3 linked regions of the Homo sapiens genome follow. The protein of the gene in region 3 purifies or fractionates together with the protein of the main gene of each other region. This does not show direct contact. Each region holds a gene or a part of one and is shown on either strand. Other genes may lie near its edges. The genes, in order: TXNDC9, VBP1 and PEX7.

What was found.
Region 1: the proteins of PEX7 (region 3) and TXNDC9 purify together in Homo sapiens (affinity purification with mass spectrometry; 3 studies listed by BioGRID and IntAct, with this or other methods). This does not show direct contact.
Region 2: the proteins of PEX7 (region 3) and VBP1 purify together in Homo sapiens (affinity purification with mass spectrometry; 3 studies listed by BioGRID and IntAct, with this or other methods). This does not show direct contact.

Annotation. Positions count from the first base shown.
Region 1 is NC_000002.12:99,319,245-99,322,900, reverse strand, and holds part of TXNDC9 (thioredoxin domain-containing protein 9), read left to right. Parts: intron 1-691; coding exon 692-946; intron 947-1,117; exon of another isoform or gene 1,118-1,775; intron 1,776-3,101; coding exon 3,102-3,219; 3' UTR 3,220-3,656. UniProt on the Homo sapiens protein: Significantly diminishes the chaperonin TCP1 complex ATPase activity, thus negatively impacts protein folding, including that of actin or tubulin.
Region 2 is NC_000023.11:155,236,901-155,240,497, reverse strand, and holds the end of VBP1 (prefoldin subunit 3), read right to left. Parts: intron 1,727-3,597; coding exon 1,656-1,726; 3' UTR 657-1,655; downstream 1-656. UniProt on the Homo sapiens protein: Binds specifically to cytosolic chaperonin (c-CPN) and transfers target proteins to it. Binds to nascent polypeptide chain and promotes folding in an environment in which there are many competing pathways for nonnative proteins.
Region 3 is NC_000006.12:136,829,053-136,832,708, reverse strand, and holds part of PEX7 (peroxisomal biogenesis factor 7), read right to left. Parts: intron 1-3,656. UniProt on the Homo sapiens protein: Receptor required for the peroxisomal import of proteins containing a C-terminal PTS2-type peroxisomal targeting signal. Specifically binds to cargo proteins containing a PTS2 peroxisomal targeting signal in the cytosol.

The sequences.
Region 1 (3,656 bases), on a different chromosome or scaffold from region 3:
AGTCCCAGCTACTTGGGAGGCTGAGGCAGGAGAATGGCATGAACCAGGGAGGCGGAGCTTGCAGTGAGCCGAGCTTGTGCCACTGCACTCCAGCCTGGGGGACAGGGCAATACGCCACCTCCAAAAAAATAAAAAATAAAAAAGTTACTACTGGTATTTTTTAATTTCCTAGAAGCATAATGGCCACATTTATTTAAATATTATTAGTAACCCTTAGCCTTAATGTGCTTCTTACTGACAGCGTTGCATATTTAGGAGTAAGAAGTTTTTCCTCGGTAATGCTGTTCAGTTTTTCTTCATGACTTCCAAATATGGCACCATGTGTGCACTTCTGATTCTTGTAAGTCTCTTCCGAGTTTTGTCAAGTTTCAGTTTGTTCCTCTTCAAGTTTCCTGTGTAGGAGATAGGACAACTTCCTTTATGACTTAAAGCATATATTTAATATTTTAAAAGAGAATATCATTAATGCAAATCTGACTTTCTAGAATCTTATAGGCTGTTTTCCCATCTCGTAATCAGGCAGCTAACCTCTGATCTGGAAGTGAGGTCATCTGACACAAGTTTAAGTTGGCTGCCATGTTATGAGAGTCAACAGAAAAACTACATAATTAGATTTCCCTTGATGATATTTATTTTGAAAAAAGCGATCTGTGGTTTTAGCTTATAATTTTCTATGTGTGGTCACTTACAGGTGTAAAATACTAGACAGACATCTGGCAATATTGTCCAAGAAACACCTCGAGACCAAATTTTTGAAGCTGAATGTGGAAAAAGCACCTTTCCTTTGTGAGAGACTGCATATCAAAGTCATTCCCACACTAGCACTGCTAAAAGATGGGAAAACACAAGATTATGTTGTTGGGTTTACTGACCTAGGAAATACAGATGACTTCACCACAGAAACTTTAGAATGGAGGCTCGGTTCTTCTGACATTCTTAATTACAGGTAACTTTTAACAAAAGAAGAGATTGATTTTAATTCATATATAGTTGATATTTTTACAAAAGATTTTTGTATTGTAACATTTATTTTATGAAATTAAGGCATTTTGGCTGAGATGTGGAAAGTTTCTCAAAGGAAAAGCATGTTTTTTTGAAGTGTGTAATATTAGCGTGATTTTACGGCAAAATCAGATTTACAGATTAAACTGATTTAATAGGTAAAACTGAGTCTCACCGTACTCCTGACTATAAAAGTTTTCAGCTTAACGTATACTATTGACACTAATTTTGTATTAATCTGGAAACTTAAAATGGCAATCCAGTGTTGACTATTCCCCAATTTAAGCCAGATTGCTCAAATGAATTCTGACTTAAGTGATTCTCTTTGATAAAATAAAAATTAAAAGCAGACTCTTGCAAAGAAAGTTATATTTTAAAATACTAGATTTTTAACATGGATATTTCTGTTTTACTTATAGAGGCTGATGAATAGAAAAAGGTTTCTATGCCTAGCTTACATTGCTTGCTATGAAGAACAGTTTTAGTTTGAAAACAATCTAAAATCCAACTTCCATTTCTTTGTCCACTTCTTCAGACAAATAATTTATCTAATTCCACAAATCAGAGCATATCATCTTGTCTTTTTTGCCTTTTCTTGATTTGCAAAAGTAACAGGTAAAATTGTGCACTTACCATTCCAGAGTCATGGTGCCTTTCAGGAAGTAGAAGGTTCTCTCACGTTTTTCTTTCTCCCCCATTTCCCTCCCGTCTTTTCTCTGACTCTCCTAGACATGCCGAAATCATTCCTATGTTGTAGAAATTGGTTTCATTTCCTTAATATTAACATAAAATATTAATATTTATTAAATAAAGTTATATATTTTGAAGTAATTTTAAGCCTTAAACAAATTGCAGCCGGGTGGGGCACTTGTGTAATCTCAGAAGATTACAGACTTTGAGAGGCTGAGGTGGGAGAATCAGTTGAGGCCAGGAGTTTGAGACCAATTTGGGCAACATATAGTGAGATGAGACCTCGTCTCTACAAAAAACTAGTAGAAACAACCCCCTGCAGACTAGTACAACGAATCCTCATTGACCCTTTGCCCATATTACCCAATTTTAAACATTTTATATTTGTTTTATCATTGTCTTTATAGATACTATGAAGTATTTTGGGAACCATTTGAGTGGAAATTGTGAATACAGTGTCCCTTTACTCCTAAAGACTTCCATATATATTTTCTAAGAACAAGAACATTTTCTTACGTAGCGACAGTACAATTATTGAAACAGGAATTATTGTGTAATTTACCGCTCTTATTTCAAGTTTTCTCATTGTCCCAATAATTGTCCTTCATACCAAAAATGCAGCACATTTAGTTATTACGTCTTTAGTTACCATTGTTATTCTTTGGTTCTTAAGACTGATGTTTTTGAAGAGTACAAACTGTTTATTTTGGAGAACATCTCCCAGTTTGGGTTTGTCTTAAATTTCCTCAAGATTAGATTCAGATTATCGATTTTTGACGGGCATATTATGGAAGTGATGCATCATATCGGGAGGTGTGTGATGGTTTCTCTCATTTCCGGTGACAACTGAGCACTGTGTTAACCAAATGTTAATCCATAATTAATGATAAAAAGGAAAATAGGTCTGGTGCAGTGGCTCATACCTATAATCCCAGCACTTTGGGATGCCAAAGCAGGAGGATTGCTTGAGCCTAAGAGTTCAAGACAAGCCTGGGCAATGTAGTGAGATGTCATCACTACAAAAAATGTAAAAATTAACTGAGCATGGTGGCACACGCCTGTAGTCCAAGCTACTCGGGAGGCTGAGGTGGGAGGATCGCTTGAGCCCAGGAACTGGAGGTTGCAGTGAGCTGTGATCACACCACTGCACATCAGCCTGGGCCACAGAGTGAGACCCTGTCTCAAAAAGAAAGGAAAATAAAATTGATCTAAAACATTCAGTAGGACACAATAAGGTTTAAGGCTATTAACCATCAATATCAATATAAGCATTATACCTCTTCCCTGACACCAGCATTTTAAAGAAATTTTATTCTATGTTACAGGAAGAAAACAAAGATAGATTTTTGTGCAGTTTAGTATACTAGTACTAAATCATAAAGAATAAAATGCTTTTTTTTTTTTTTAAGTGGAAATTTAATGGAGCCACCATTTCAGAACCAAAAGAAATTTGGAACAAACTTCACAAAGCTGGAAAAGAAAACTATCCGAGGAAAGAAATATGATTCAGACTCTGATGATGATTAGAGCTCAATAATTCTTTGTAAATTGTCTTTTTTTTTCTGCTTCAGATTTAAATGTGTTTTTAAAATTCTATTAATGTCTATACATTGGTCACCTAAATACTCATATTCTCGAGTTTTATACAGTTGTATCACATCGAAAAGTGTCTTTACTGTTTTCTGTGTGGCCATCATGTTTAAGTTGAGGAAAACTCAGTTCTTAAATTATCTGGGAAGGGTCTGGATTCTCTATTTTTGAGATTGACTTTATCACAATATGATTCTTACATCTTTATACCATTTACAATTGTGTTTTAGATCTACAGAGTTAGAAATTCGAAAACTATTCCAGGACTAATTCTTAATCGGCATTATTTATACAAGAGGTCAAGTAACATTTACTAGCGCAATACTGCACTTGTAAATGAATTATAAACGCTCTTCTGGAATATATTTAAATAA
Region 2 (3,597 bases), on a different chromosome or scaffold from region 3:
ATATATACTTACCATAACAAAGTTTGGGGAAAATGAGCACATACAATATCTCAAGATGTTTACAAACCTCAAATTCTAAAATATGAGAATTTAAAATTATGAAAGAAAAATTCAATCAAGGAAATTCTGTTATCTTTTCAATGAACTTCTCAATTGTTTGCAGATCTGTATTCCTTCCACAGGGATTTTATGGTGTTTCTAGAAATATAAGTTGTTCTTGGAACATGCTAGTATATGTACAAGTAAACTTTACAAATACGTGAAAAGACCCATGTTAACTTTAAAAAGGTGTTATTGTCTGAATCTTTGTGTCACCCCAAAATTGTTATGTTAAAATCTTAACCCCCAAGGTGATGGTATTAGGAGGTGGGGCTTTTGGGAGGTGAGTAGGTCATAAGGGCAGAGCCCTCATGATGAGATTAGTGCCAAATTAAAGAGGCCCAAGGGAGCTCCTTGCCCCTTCTGCCACATGAGGGCACAGTGAAAAGGTGCCGTTTACGAACCAGGACACAGCCCTTACCAGACACCAAATCTGCCAGCACCTTGATCTTGGACTTCCCAGCCTCCAGAACTGGGAGAGATAAATTTCTGCTGTTTATAAGCCCCCCACTCTGTGGTATTCTGTTATAGCAGCCCAAACATAGTAAGACAAAGAGTAACATGAAAAAAGTGCTCTGCCATAGTTTTAGCATCACTGTTTTAATTTCATGAAATACAAGTACAAAACATTGTATAAGTATACTTTTTACTACATGGAGATGAACTAATACATTTATGTTTTTATCAGAATCTGTATCACCCAGCGCTGGTCAATGTACTAGTAGCTTTCCACAGGGATTTTTTATACTATTCCTATAAGGTTTTATCATGAATAAAAAAGCTCACAACTCTTTTCAGCCATTGCAGATTCACATTTATCTTAATATTCCTGTTCAAGATGCTCTGGAGAACTGTTAAGAACTACAAAATCACCTTAGGCAGAGTTTTGAATGAGTAATTTTATTTCACGTTGGCCAAGATCTCCCTTATGTTGGCATTGCAAAGACACTGCACTTATCTGAGGTTAGAAAAAATGTAGTCTTAATAGCCCTCTTAATGTGTAGCAAGGCAAATTACCATTTCCTAAAATGTCCAGAATATCATAGTAGTTAGTTATTCGTTAAGCAGTAAGTCATGAAACTCCACTTATAGAAGACAATAGCAACAGAGGACCACTAAGTCCTAAATATACCAAAGAAAAACAAGTTTACAAATATTCAAACTGTCTGTCTTCTCTACCTCTAAAATGGTTTAACCACATCAAGTGAGAGTAACATCAGCCAATTAGAAAGGGAAAAAGTAAACTGTGCTAGCGTCCGGCATTCAGCTTCCATAGCATGTCTCACAGTTTTCGGCCATTTCAGCTAAGAGTTTTCTTATGACAGGCAAAAATAATGATTAAAATACCATTAGCTTTGCTGAGAAATGTGGAAAAAAAAATCACAATGTCAAAAATATTTGAAACTAATTTTGTTTTTATAAATAAATAAAATGGTGTTTATCTTTTCTTAAAATTCTTGCTGTTAAAACATTCAAAGTTATGTCAACCTGTAAGGATAAAGGGGTATTTAAGATAACATGTTTGGAAAACTAAACCACATTTTTAATTGCCAGCATTATGCTTTGTTCTTGGTAGAGTCATCCTTGTTTCTTCTTTTTACATCCCAATTATAAACCCTGGCCATATCTGCAAGAATTGTCAAAGAAAATGCAAATGCAATTCTAAAGATAATGCATGCAATGACTAAGTATTCACTCCACTCACACAATGAATCAAAGACACAGAAATGAAACATATACAAATACTGGTAACAAATAGTATTGTAAGACATCCTGCTATAATGTCAATTGTTAGGAAAATACTATAATTAAACTCTATCAAAACTAAGGACTCAAATTAATTGTTAACCCATTGTTTACTATGGTATTAGTCAACTGTCAGCTAGTCAACTATGATATATTTAACAAATATGTACTAGACACTCTCGATAGTTTTAAAGACAGTCCCTCATCCAAGAAATCTGAAAGATCACTCAACCCATATCCTGCCATGTAATATTTATATTATTACAATTATCAATAATTTTATCTCTTACCCTCCCTTTGGCTTAACAAGTTTATTAAGCATCTACTGTATTTTTGACTAGGCACTGTACAAAGCCCTGACCTGAATAAGACAGGTGAAGTTCTTTTCCTCGTGGAGCTTAGACTCCAGTAGAATGTCAATGTAACAGAGACTGTCCACCCTAGCTCCCTCACTTGTCTGCACACCTTCCTTTCCTACCTTTTGCAGTACTAGCAATAACAAATGGCATTTAACTAAGCTTGTAGGACTCATCTTAGAGGATTTCCTCACTTTTGGCTCCTGTACCCATCTAAGTCACTGGATCCTGTTTTTTTCTCACACGTTTAATATCTTTTCCTTTCCACAAGCCACCCGTCCTAGGCCCTCGTCATCTCATAGCTGGATGAAGTTTCCACACTACCCGTCAGATGATGATGACCACTGCACTAGGCCCCAACAGGCCTGCCTTCCCTCAGCCAACCATAAACAACTGCCACATGCTGCACACTGGAAAAGAAGAGAAAGTGCAGCTCCTACATCTGAAGAGCTCACGGTTTGGCAAGGTAAAACTAAGCAGTATGTGTTAAGCAAGCACACAAGAAACACTCTGAGGATCAGAAAATGTTCAGGAAAGCTCTGATGCTTGGACTGAGATATTTAGGGTAAAAGGGTAAAAAAAGAGCACATCCTGTAAATATGGGAAAGTCATTCCAGTTAGGAGGAACAAAGTGTAGAAATGCAAAGGGTGTGGCACAATTGGGGAGTGTGTACAATAACTGACTGGGGTTATCTGGAACCTGGAATGCACTGGGGAAAGGCAAGAAGAGGTCAGTGGCATGAGGTGAGACAAGCTGGGGGCACTTCACAAGAGTGCCTATATGTATATCTTGTAAGTAACAAGGAACCGTTGAAATATTGTAACCAGAGGAATAAAAATGAGTGACCTAGTAAATTCATACTAGAGATAGTGGGAAGGACAGATGGAATGAGAGGAACCTAAAAAGGTTCTGAGTGCAGGTTTTGGAGCCCCAGAACGAGAACAGTAATGGGCAGAGAGATTTATGAGGGAAATTTGATGTGAATCTGGCGACTGATTTATTATTGGTAGTGAGGAAGAGAGAAGTGTGAAAGGTGACTCCCGTGATTTTGTCTTGAGTGACTGTGACAGGAAGTAGGAGGAAAAGACAGGCCAGAGAAGAAAGGCAAAGAGCTTGCCTTCCCCCTTGACCAGAATACCCCACTCCCACCTCTTCTCTCTGCTGATCTTTAAACCCTACGCCGCCTTTAAAAAAGCAGCCTAACTTTTATCTTCTCAACAAAGCCTTCTTTGAACTAAGTCCAGCCTACATCTATCTTTCCCAAAGTTTAAATTGCCTTGGTGTTGCATATGTTAACTTACTTATAGTTTGCTATGAATTATCATTCAGCTGTTTTACATGTACAGTTCTACCAGAGAAAGGCACTGCCACTCTTTTCTAAAATTGATTTTCATG
Region 3 (3,656 bases):
GAAAGAGATTTCTAAGCACCAAAGCATTCAAGAAGTGACCCGGTTGTTTCTAAAAGTGTATAGTCACATGCATTCATGAAGAGATTATTTGAATTTGGAACTTATATTTAAAAGGGAAGCACAGCATAAAAGTTCAGAAAATTTGCAACCTAACCATGAGGTAGAAAAGAAAAACCTATTTCTTGGGGGGAAATTCAAACCTGCTGCAGAAATTTGTATAAGTAACAAGGAGCCAAATATTAATAGCCAAAACAATGGGAAAAATGTATCCAAGGCATGTCAGAGACATTTGCAGAAGCCCCTCCCATCACAGGCCCAGCGGCCTAGGAGGGAAAAATGGTTTTGTGGGCCTGAGTGGCCCTGCTGCTCTGTGCAGCCTCAAGACATGGTGCCCTGCATCCAGCTGCTCTAGCTCCAGCCATGGCTAAAAGGAGCCAAGGTACAGCTCAAGCCATTGCTTCTGAGGGTGCAAGCCCTAAACCTTGGCAGCTTCCATGTGGTGTTGGGTCTGTGGGTACACAGAAGACAAGAAGAGTTTAGAAGACAAGAGTTTAACCTCCACCTAAATTTCAGAGGATGTATGGAAACACCTGAATGTCCAGGCAGAAGTCTGCTGCAAGGGAGGAGCCCTCATGGAGAACCTTTGCTAGGGCAGTACAGAAGGAAAATGTGGGGTTGAAGGCCCCACACAGTCCCCACTGGGGCACTGCCTACTGGAGTTGTGAGGAGAGAGCCACTGTCCCCCAGGCCCCAGAAAGGTAGATTCACTGACAGCTTGTATTGTACAGCTGGAAAAGCCACAGGCACTCAATGCCAGCCAGTGAAAGCAGCCATAAGGACTGCACCTTTCAGAGCTACAAGGGTAGAGCTGCCCAAGGCCATGGGAGCCTACCCCTTGGATGTGAGATATGGAGTCAAAGGAGATCATTTCAGAGCTTTAAGATTTAGTAACTGCACTGCTGGGTTTCAGACTTGCATGGGGCCTGTGGCCCCTTTGTTTTGGCCAATTTCTCCCATTTGAAACATTTAGCTAATGCCTATAGCCCTACTGTATCTTAGAAGTAACTAACTTGTTTTTTATTTTATAGGCTCATAGGCAAAAGGGACTTGCCTTGTCTCAGATGAGACTTTGGACTTGGACTTTTGGGTTAATGCTGGAATAAGTTAAGACTTTGGGGGACTGTTGGAAAGTCATGATTGGTTTTGAAATGTGAAAAAGACATGAAATTTGGGAGGCGCCAGGAGTGGAATGATATGGTTTGGCTTTATATCCCCACCCAAATCTCATCTTGAATTGTAATCCCCATGTGTCCAGGGAGGAACCCGGTAGGAAGTGATCGGATCATGGGGGCAGTTTCCCCCATGCTGTTCTTGTGATAGTGAGGGAGTTCTCAAAAGATCTGATGGCTTTAAAAGTGGCAGTTTCCCCTGCTTTCTCTCTCTCTCTTTCTCTCTCTCCTGCTGCCTTGTGAAGAAGGTTATCTACTTCCCCTTCACCTTCTGCCATAATTTTAAGTTTCCTGAGGCCTCCCCAGTCATGTGGAACTGTGAGTCAATTAAACCTCTTTCCTTTATAAATTACCCACTCTCAGGTATTTCTTTATAACAATGTGAAAACAGACTAATACAATACCTATCATTATTGACTTCTCAGCTTCTATCATTATCAAAAAGTAAATAATTGATTCATTTTTTAAAGTAAACAAGATTTTAACTCTTGAAATGTATAAGCAAATACATTTCCTCCATAACAGAATACTAATAGTTGTATACTTAGGTCAAAAATAAGTTTTTATAAGCAATGCTCAAAAACCTCAATGGATCAAATATGTTATAAAAATTCAGCAAATTGATAAACCTTGTTATTTGACTATGAGAACAAATTTTAACTCATTTTTAAATTGTGATAAGCCAACTCATTAGTCTGAAAATTAGAAATTAATATATTACATTGATTTATGTCATCTTTAAAGTCACTTTAACTCACTCTCAGTAGCACAGTGTTTTAAGTCAGAAAGCAGTGAAATAAAATTGTCAATTCACTCTTATTTTTCTATTCTCACTGAACTTTTAAAAATTTTTATTATATATTCAGCAGCATTAGAATAAGCAAAGCCAAAGGCATTTTATGGGACTCAAAAGACATAATGACCTCTGCAGACACCAGTTAAACAATAGACAGAAGAATTTGATTCCTACTTCGATGCTAGGTTTAGCAACCATTCACACAGATAATGTCCATGTTTTTCTTTCTTTTCATTTCACCAAGACCTTCACTCCTCAAAGCCTAAAATATATCTAAATCTTGGATTTCTCTTTTTTGCTTCATCTGACAACTTGAAAATTGACTGTTGGACACATAGCCATCAAGTGGTAAAGTGGGTAACTGGAAAAGTTCTAACTTGTTTTACATTTTTCAAACCCTATTATAATAAGAGCAAATAATAATACTAGCTCATATTTATTCAATGCTGGTCTGTGATACAGACTACTAATAAACTTAGTTTGCAAATAAAAACACTCAAGTTTAGGAAAAATATGTGACATACGCAAGGTCTCACAACAGGTAACTTACAAAGCTGGGATTCAAATCCAAGATTGACTAAAACCATGCTATACGTCTTTATTATATACTCTCTTCCACAGAAGAAAATGACCCATTAGTTGCTCTTCTATTTCACAACACAGCTTCCCTGAACATACTGGTGGAAAAAAAAAAAACAGAAATTGGCTATGTTCATTATCAACTTTTTTTTTTAATAACTTTCTTTTAAGACAGGGTCTCACTCTGTTGTCCAGGCTGGAGTGCAATGGCACGAACTCAGCTCACTGCAACCTCCACCTCCCATGCTCAAATGATTCTTGTGCCTCAGCCACCAAATAGCTGGGACTACAGGTGTGCACCACCACACCCAGCTAATTTTTTTATTTTTAGTAGAGGCGGGGTTTTCGCCATGTTGGCCAGGCTGGTCCCAAACTCCTGGCCTTCAGTGATCTGCCCACCTCGACCTTCCAAAGTGTTAGGATTACAGGCATGACTCACTGCACTCAGCCTCATTTATTAATTTATTCAACAAATATTTACTAGCTCCTTAAAACTCTCATTTGAGCTTAAATCCTTTTAAGTATTTTTGAGTATCTGGCATATGCAATGGACTGAATATATCCCCACAAAACCCACATGTTGAAATCTTAACCCCCCAGTGTAATGGTTTTAGGACGTAGGGCCTCTGGGGGGTAATTAGGTCATGAATGTAGAGCCCTCATGAATGGGATTAGTGCTCTTATAAAAGGGATTTCCCAAACCTCTCTCATTCTCTTTCCACCACCTGCAGATACAATGAAAAGACAGCAGTAGTCTTTGACCTAAAAGAGGGCCCTCATCAGAACCCAAACATGTGGGCACCCTGACCTTGGACTTCCAACCTCCAGAATAGTAAGAAATAAATTTCTGTTCTTTATAAGGCACCCAGTCTATAATACTTTGTTACAGCAGCCTGAACAGACTGAGGCAGAAACTGGTGCCAAGAATTAGGGGTGCTGCTGTAACAAATACCTAAAAAGGTTATCTTCATTTATTTTTCACATAACCAAGCAAAATATGTGAAACAGTAAACTCTGACTGTTGAAGCCATTTAATTGTTTTCTATTACACT